Linked DNA regions of Homo sapiens. The protein of the gene in region 2 interacts with the protein of the main gene of each other region in a biochemical or structural test. Each region holds a gene or a part of one and is shown on either strand. Other genes may lie near its edges.

Region 1 (3,754 bases), on a different chromosome or scaffold from region 2:
GGATCAGGTGGAAGCTGGCAGTTTCAATCTATCCTGTGGATAGAGTGTGAAAGCAACAAAACCCACCACCGTTAATACCAACATAGGAGCTGAGCTTTTAATGGCCCAATTTGCCTTAGTCTCCAGGCAGAGCTGGGTAAAGCTAGAGCTTCTGGCTTTGCTTATATGGAGAAGGGGGAGCAGTTACTGAGGCAGCTTAATTCTGACACCTCAGAGATGTGGCCAGCTTTTTGGAGCAGATTCTCCAGAATGGAGAATGGACTAGCAACTGCTGAAGATGGGCTTGTCTGGCAAGGGAAACTGGAAACTGGGGCCCATGAACATCCCCAAGGAAGGTAGGCCCAGTGGAATTTCCCACTCTTTGTTTCTAAGCTCTTCGAGATAAGGATGACATCAGGGACTCAGCTGTTAATTAAATGTGGGCGGGTGAGCATGGCTTCTAGAGGCTCCATGCTCTAGATGCTGGGACCCAGGTGCTAGAGCAAAAGAGCAGGTGGCTTCCAGAGGCTGAGAGAAAGGCCTGTCTCTCCATAGGCCACATTGGGAAGGGGAGGCACGGGACCTGGGGCCCCACACTAGGGGTGAGACCCCAGGCCCAATCTCACCCTCATTGGGAACTTGGCCTTCACCGTCCCCCTCCCCCAGTGTTGTTTTTTCAGGTCTGATGACTGCATTCTGCATTCCTGTGACTGTCCCTGCCTACAGCCCAACCCCCAGCCCTGGTCTGGCCTTGATGCCTAGCTAATTTTTAAAAACCTGCCCCAAGGTTGGGTGAAACCCCATCATCTGAATGCCCAATCTCAAAATGTTCACTATCAGGAGGTGATAATCATAGTAATTAACTAGTTACATTAATTGATGTTATTCACAACATTAACTAGAATCTGTACAGCTTCTTGCTATTTACAAAGTGCTGAAACACACACATAGACACACACACACCTCTTTTGGTCTTCTCAGTAGCTGCGTGTCGGCAGGACCAGGGATCTGGGATTTCCATTTTATAGGAGAAGAAAGTGAGGCCCAGGGAGGGAAAAACAACTGCTCCATATCATTAGCCAAGTATGAGTTGCTGCTGCTGCGAGGGTCTGAGAGGATAGATATGTTCTCCCTTCCCATTCATTCCTCCATTCCTTCCTGCATCCATCCAGCATTTATTAAGCACCTACTGTGTGCCCCATTCTGTGCTAGACACTTATCCCTAAGCTGGGACACTTTTCCAGAAAGCAAGAATCCTCGTGTTCCTGAAAGATGAGTTGGGAGGAGGAGGGGCACACATCCCGCTGGCCTTGGGGAACGTGGGACTCCAGATCAGTAGGTCTTGGTGGATGTCCCTTCTCAGGCTGTCCCAGGTGAGTGAGGAGCCTCATTAATTATTTCTTAAAAAAAAAAAAAAAATTAAGGAGCCTATGTGACTTCGTTCATTCTGCACAGGCGCTGCTCCTGGTGGGATGGCTGTGGCTGGGGGAAGGTGTAGGGGATGGGAGACGCCTATAGTCGGCCACAGAGTCCTAGGCAGGTCTTAGGCCGGGGCCACCTGGCTCGTCTCCGTCTTGGACACGGTAGCAGAGGCCTCATCGTCACCCAGTGGGTTCTTGCCGCAGCAGATGGTGGTGAGCATGCAGTTCCGGAACTGGAAGGCAAGAGGCTTGAGTCAGGGCCAGGGCTGCCCACAGTGTGCTTGGAACTGGCACGTTAGTGAGGTTCGCCCCGACCCTTTGCCTGCTTCTGCCCCTCACGATTCCAGCGCCCCATCCACTCAAATCCAGCTTCCTGGAGGGAACCTGCTAGGCAGACGCTCCTCACCCCTAGAGATGCCAGGGACTGAGCACAAGGGGGCTGTGTCACCCGTGACATTTCATGGTGCCCTCTGTGTGCCAAGGGTGTTCTGTAAATTATCTCTTGTAATCCAAGAGTTTGGTGTTTTGCCCTTTCTACCTTTCTATGGATGAGGAAACCAAAGCACAGAGAAGGAAATTGACTTGCCCAGGGCCATACAGCTAGAAAATGGCAGAGCTGACTTCAGAGACTGTTTACCCAACTGTTTACCCCTCGGAGGTACCTCTCCGAGGAACCCTTTACCCCTTTACCCCTCAGAATAAGACTTTTTAGCTCCTTATTCAGCTTTATGGAGACTGGCCCATCCCATTCCCGACTTGGGTCCTTCTGACTTTGACATTGGGCTTCCAGAACTAGCTGACTGGAGCTTCTCCCACCTGAGTGAGCATCTGAGCCACCTGTGGAGGGCTTGCTGGAAATGCAGGTTCCTGGGCCCACCCTGAGATTCAGCAGTTCTGAGTGGGGCCAGGAATCTGCATTTCTCACACACTCCCCATTGGGACTGCTGACCCAAGACTGCTGCCAGTAACCCTGATGGAGCCCCCTCCCCTGCCCTGGGAAGTAGCTTGTCCTTGGCAGGCAGCGCCTGTGGCCTGGGGCACTGGGGCCCTCCCACCCGCAGTAGGCACCTGCTTGTTCATCATGATATAGATGACAGGGTTGTAGATGGCGGCGCTCTTGGCAAAGAACGCTGGGATGGTCATGAAGATGGGACCGAAGTTGGAGCCCTGGTGGGTGAAGATGTAGAATGCCACGCTGGCGTAGGGCACCCAGCAGATCAGGAAAGCGATGACCATGATGATGACCATGCGGGTGACCTCCTTCTCTGCCTTCTGTGTGGTGGCTGACTCCTGCTGCTGGGCAGCGGCCTGCAGGACACGGGACCCGGGTCCAGACCATGGCTCCTCCAGGGAGCAGGAGCCGCAGATGCATGCTGGGGGCTGGACCCTCAGAGCCGTGAGGCCGCCCACCCCCCGGCCCGTACCTCCTTGACGGTGAAGACGAGCTGCCCATAGCAGAAAAAGATGATAATCATGGGGATGGTGAAGTGGACCACGAACATGTAGATGACAAAAGACTCGTTGTTGACCTCCGGCTTGAGCGTGTAGTAGTCGATTCCACACGAGCACTGCAGGCCCTCGGGGATGTACCTGAGGACAGGCAGGTAGGGAGACCCTGCCTGTGAGGGACTTGGGAACAGCCAAGGTGGCTGCCGAGCGCTGGCCCTTTCTGGGGCTTCACATTCCCTCCCTGGAAAAGGGGATCATAAACGTCTGCATGGCTGGGTGACAGGATGGAATGGATCAGATGGGGATGCAGATGCACCTTGTGGAATCAGTGTCGCTTCATTGTTTGGTGGCTGCGTTACCAGATGACACCACCCAGCCTCTCCCTGCATGCCCAGCCCCAGCATCCACTGCCCGCTGAGGCTAGGGCTATGCCACGCAGAGGGTTGGTGAGGAGGTGGGGAGAGCCCTCAGGCTCTGCATTTGAGGAAGTTTGTACAAACCGAGGTCTTCCTAGCCCCAGGGTGAGAGTATTTTCCAGGCCAAAGATGGACACACAGAGTATCTAAGGGATCTTTGTGCAGCTTCTGGAAACTAGAGGCTTCCAGCGCACGTCATTAGGACGTGGCAATGGTTCCTGATATTGGTGACAGTGGACGGGCCTCAGGAAACCCAGAGCGTCCAGCGGCTCTGCTTCCAGAGGATAGAACTAGGCCAGATTGGAGAAGATGGGGAAAAAGTCCAGGGGGTGGGCTCAAATTCAGCAAGGGGTAAGAAATGGACCCTAGCAAGACTGAGGAGGAAAGGGAAGTGAGAGTGGGAATTTTCTGGAGACAGAGGGACATGAGGCCTCTGGGGACCAGAGTCACCAGTCCTATTGTCCAAACCACTGTCCCCACTGTGTCTCA
Region 2 (2,492 bases):
ATTTTTACCTTTATTTTTAAAACAAACATCTCAGAGTAAGCCCTGCTCATTCTAACAGCTAAGGCAAGCAGGTCGAGGGAGACAGAAGAGGTCTTGGGTCCCAGATCGGGAATCCCAGTTCTGAGGTGCAAGGGCCGCTGTGCCTCACTGGCTACCCCACGTTCCAGCATGTGCCTGGCATGGCGAAGCCTGGACAGCCAGAAAGGCTCCCTCTGCAGAGCCCGCCTCTTCTGTATAAGACCGGGCAGGTGGGACCTGCAAATGCGCCGTTTGGTGTCATGGTGCTGGCACTGGCTCGAGCCCTTGTCACCCAGCTCCTCCTTGGTGCCAAGTGGCCAGAGCACTTCTAGAACCATCTGCTGGGTTTGAGATCAGAAGCCGGCGGCCTGGTAAGAATTCAGGTTTTCTTGGGCCCCGCCCACTGGAGCTGGGCCATCTGTGGGCAGTTCAGGGGGTGGTCAGTGTGGGGGCCGGGTTTGGGTGGGTTCCACTGTCAACCTTAGGAAAGGGTTAGCCCAAAGGCCACAGGCATCTTGGGGACAGCTGTCGTATGCAGAAGAAACAGAACAAGAGCTCAGCAGCAGGAGAGAGATGCCGATGCCATGCTACTTCCATTAAGGAATTTATTTCTCTTTTAAAAACAACAACAGTGGCTCCATCTAGATCCAGCGGCACTGTGACGCGATAGACGGAACACACAGAGTTACAGCAGCGGGAGAACAGAAGCCGCTGCCTTCAGGAGTGACCGCCACTGTGGAAGTTTCCATTCATTAATGTCCAAATCTCCCTGAAAAAAATTAGAAAGCTTTGGATGCTAGAAGGATTCTTATTATTTTAACAACACCAAAAGCCACTAAACTCTTCTAATTGAGAACACTCGCTTAGGGACTGTTACAAAAATGACTTCTTGATGGACTAGGGAAAGACATCTAAATTCCACTTTGGGGGGGAAGTGTCTTTCTCTGCCAGGGAGAGCTGGCTTTTCAAATGTTTTCAATCACTGTCTCCGGCACAAGCCTTTACGTTTAGGCCAGGTGAGACACCCCCGGCCTGTGCAGGGTCTGACTTGCACACGCTGAGCTTCAACAGCTGGGTGGTGGGTGGGGAGGGCAGGCGCAGAAGGGGTCTCTGGGAGAGGAGGCTTTGCAATCGTGGTCTATTGTGATCAGGAAGATGGCAGCTCTCTGTATTCATAATCCACACAGCGATGTCACTTCCAAATGCACAAAGACTTCATACTCACTATCTTTCCACAGCCGGGGCTAAAAAGTTGGAAGATCCTATCTCAGAGTGTTGGGTTATGAAAACAGGAGACCACCTCTTGGAAGTACAGGTATTCAGGAGGACGTGCATGCACACCAGGGGACCCCAGAGGACAGCTGAGTGTCACTCAGGTGTTTCCTCTTCTTCTCAGAGATTTCCAATTATCCAGGAAGCCACCGTCCCCTTTGGCAAGGCCTGGGATGCCAGGCTCAAGGAGGCTGCGGTGCCCCCTCCGTTTTGAGGGCAGCGGCTCGGTGGGAAAGTCGATGGGTAGCTGGAACTGATAACACGAGCCTTTGGGGAAAGGACAGGGTGTGGAGGAAGAGAAGGGATTTCTGCAGCGGGGCCAGGCTCCCGGGAGACGCATGGAGACTTGCGGGCCTCAGGGAGGGAAGGCCTCGGTATCCTCAGGGGCTCACCTGGGCTCTGATCCTACTTGTGCTGTCAATGCAAAGGCTGTGTGTGTTCCCAGGACTTCCCACCACCATTTGTCTCGGCAGCTGCTTGCTGGTATGTGTATGACCCAGGCCTCACAGCTGTGTCTGTGGGGCAGGCTAGGCCTCCCCGCCCCCGCCCCTCCGAGCAATGCCTTTCAGGAAGCCTCCCGTGGCTGCGCAGGCCACAGCAGCAGCGAGCAGCCCTAGAGCCCCGGGTTCCCGGCCAAGGAAGAGGCGAGAATGGGTTGCTGTGGCATGTGAGTGCATCGTCCGCAAGGCGGGGACCGGGTCTTCTTGCTATTTTGGGTGGTATTCTGGGTGCCCCCCAGGGGACTCAATAAACACTTGTAGGGCATCATGGTGACCATGGCAGAGACCGCCTCTGTCCACCAGGGACAGCAGCTCATCTCCTGAAATGCAGATGCAGAGACGCTTCTGAGAGATCCCATGTCTCACCTCAAAGTCACGAAGTCAGTGAACGTCTGGTGAAAAAAAATGTCATGCCTGGAGCAAGAAAGACTCTTCTGTGAAGCGCTCAAATGCATGAACGAGAGTAAATCCGTTCACCGTCCAAATATGCCTTATCCTGGACAGGTAGATGGGTGGACAGTGTTGTTTGCTTTTAATTTTAAAATATCTTTTAAAAAATGACCGTATAGGCCAGGGACAGTGGCTCACACCTATAACCTCAGCACTTTGGGAGGCTGAGGCAGGAGGATAGCTTGGGCTCAGGAATTCGAGGCCAGCCTGGGCAACATGGGGAGACCCCCCCCCCATCTCTACAAAAAATTT

Evidence for each region.
Region 1: of the proteins of GRK5 (region 2) and RHO, one has a biochemical effect on the other in vitro, tested with the Homo sapiens proteins (one study listed by BioGRID).

Annotation. Positions count from the first base shown.
Region 1 is NC_000003.12:129,531,487-129,535,240, reverse strand, and holds part of RHO (rhodopsin), read right to left. Parts: intron 2,991-3,754; coding exon 2,825-2,990; intron 2,709-2,824; coding exon 2,469-2,708; intron 1,634-2,468; coding exon 1,523-1,633; 3' UTR 1-1,522. UniProt on the Homo sapiens protein: Photoreceptor required for image-forming vision at low light intensity. Required for photoreceptor cell viability after birth.
Region 2 is NC_000010.11:119,457,860-119,460,351, reverse strand, and holds the end of GRK5 (G protein-coupled receptor kinase 5), read right to left. Parts: 3' UTR 607-2,492; downstream 1-606. UniProt on the Homo sapiens protein: Serine/threonine kinase that phosphorylates preferentially the activated forms of a variety of G-protein-coupled receptors (GPCRs).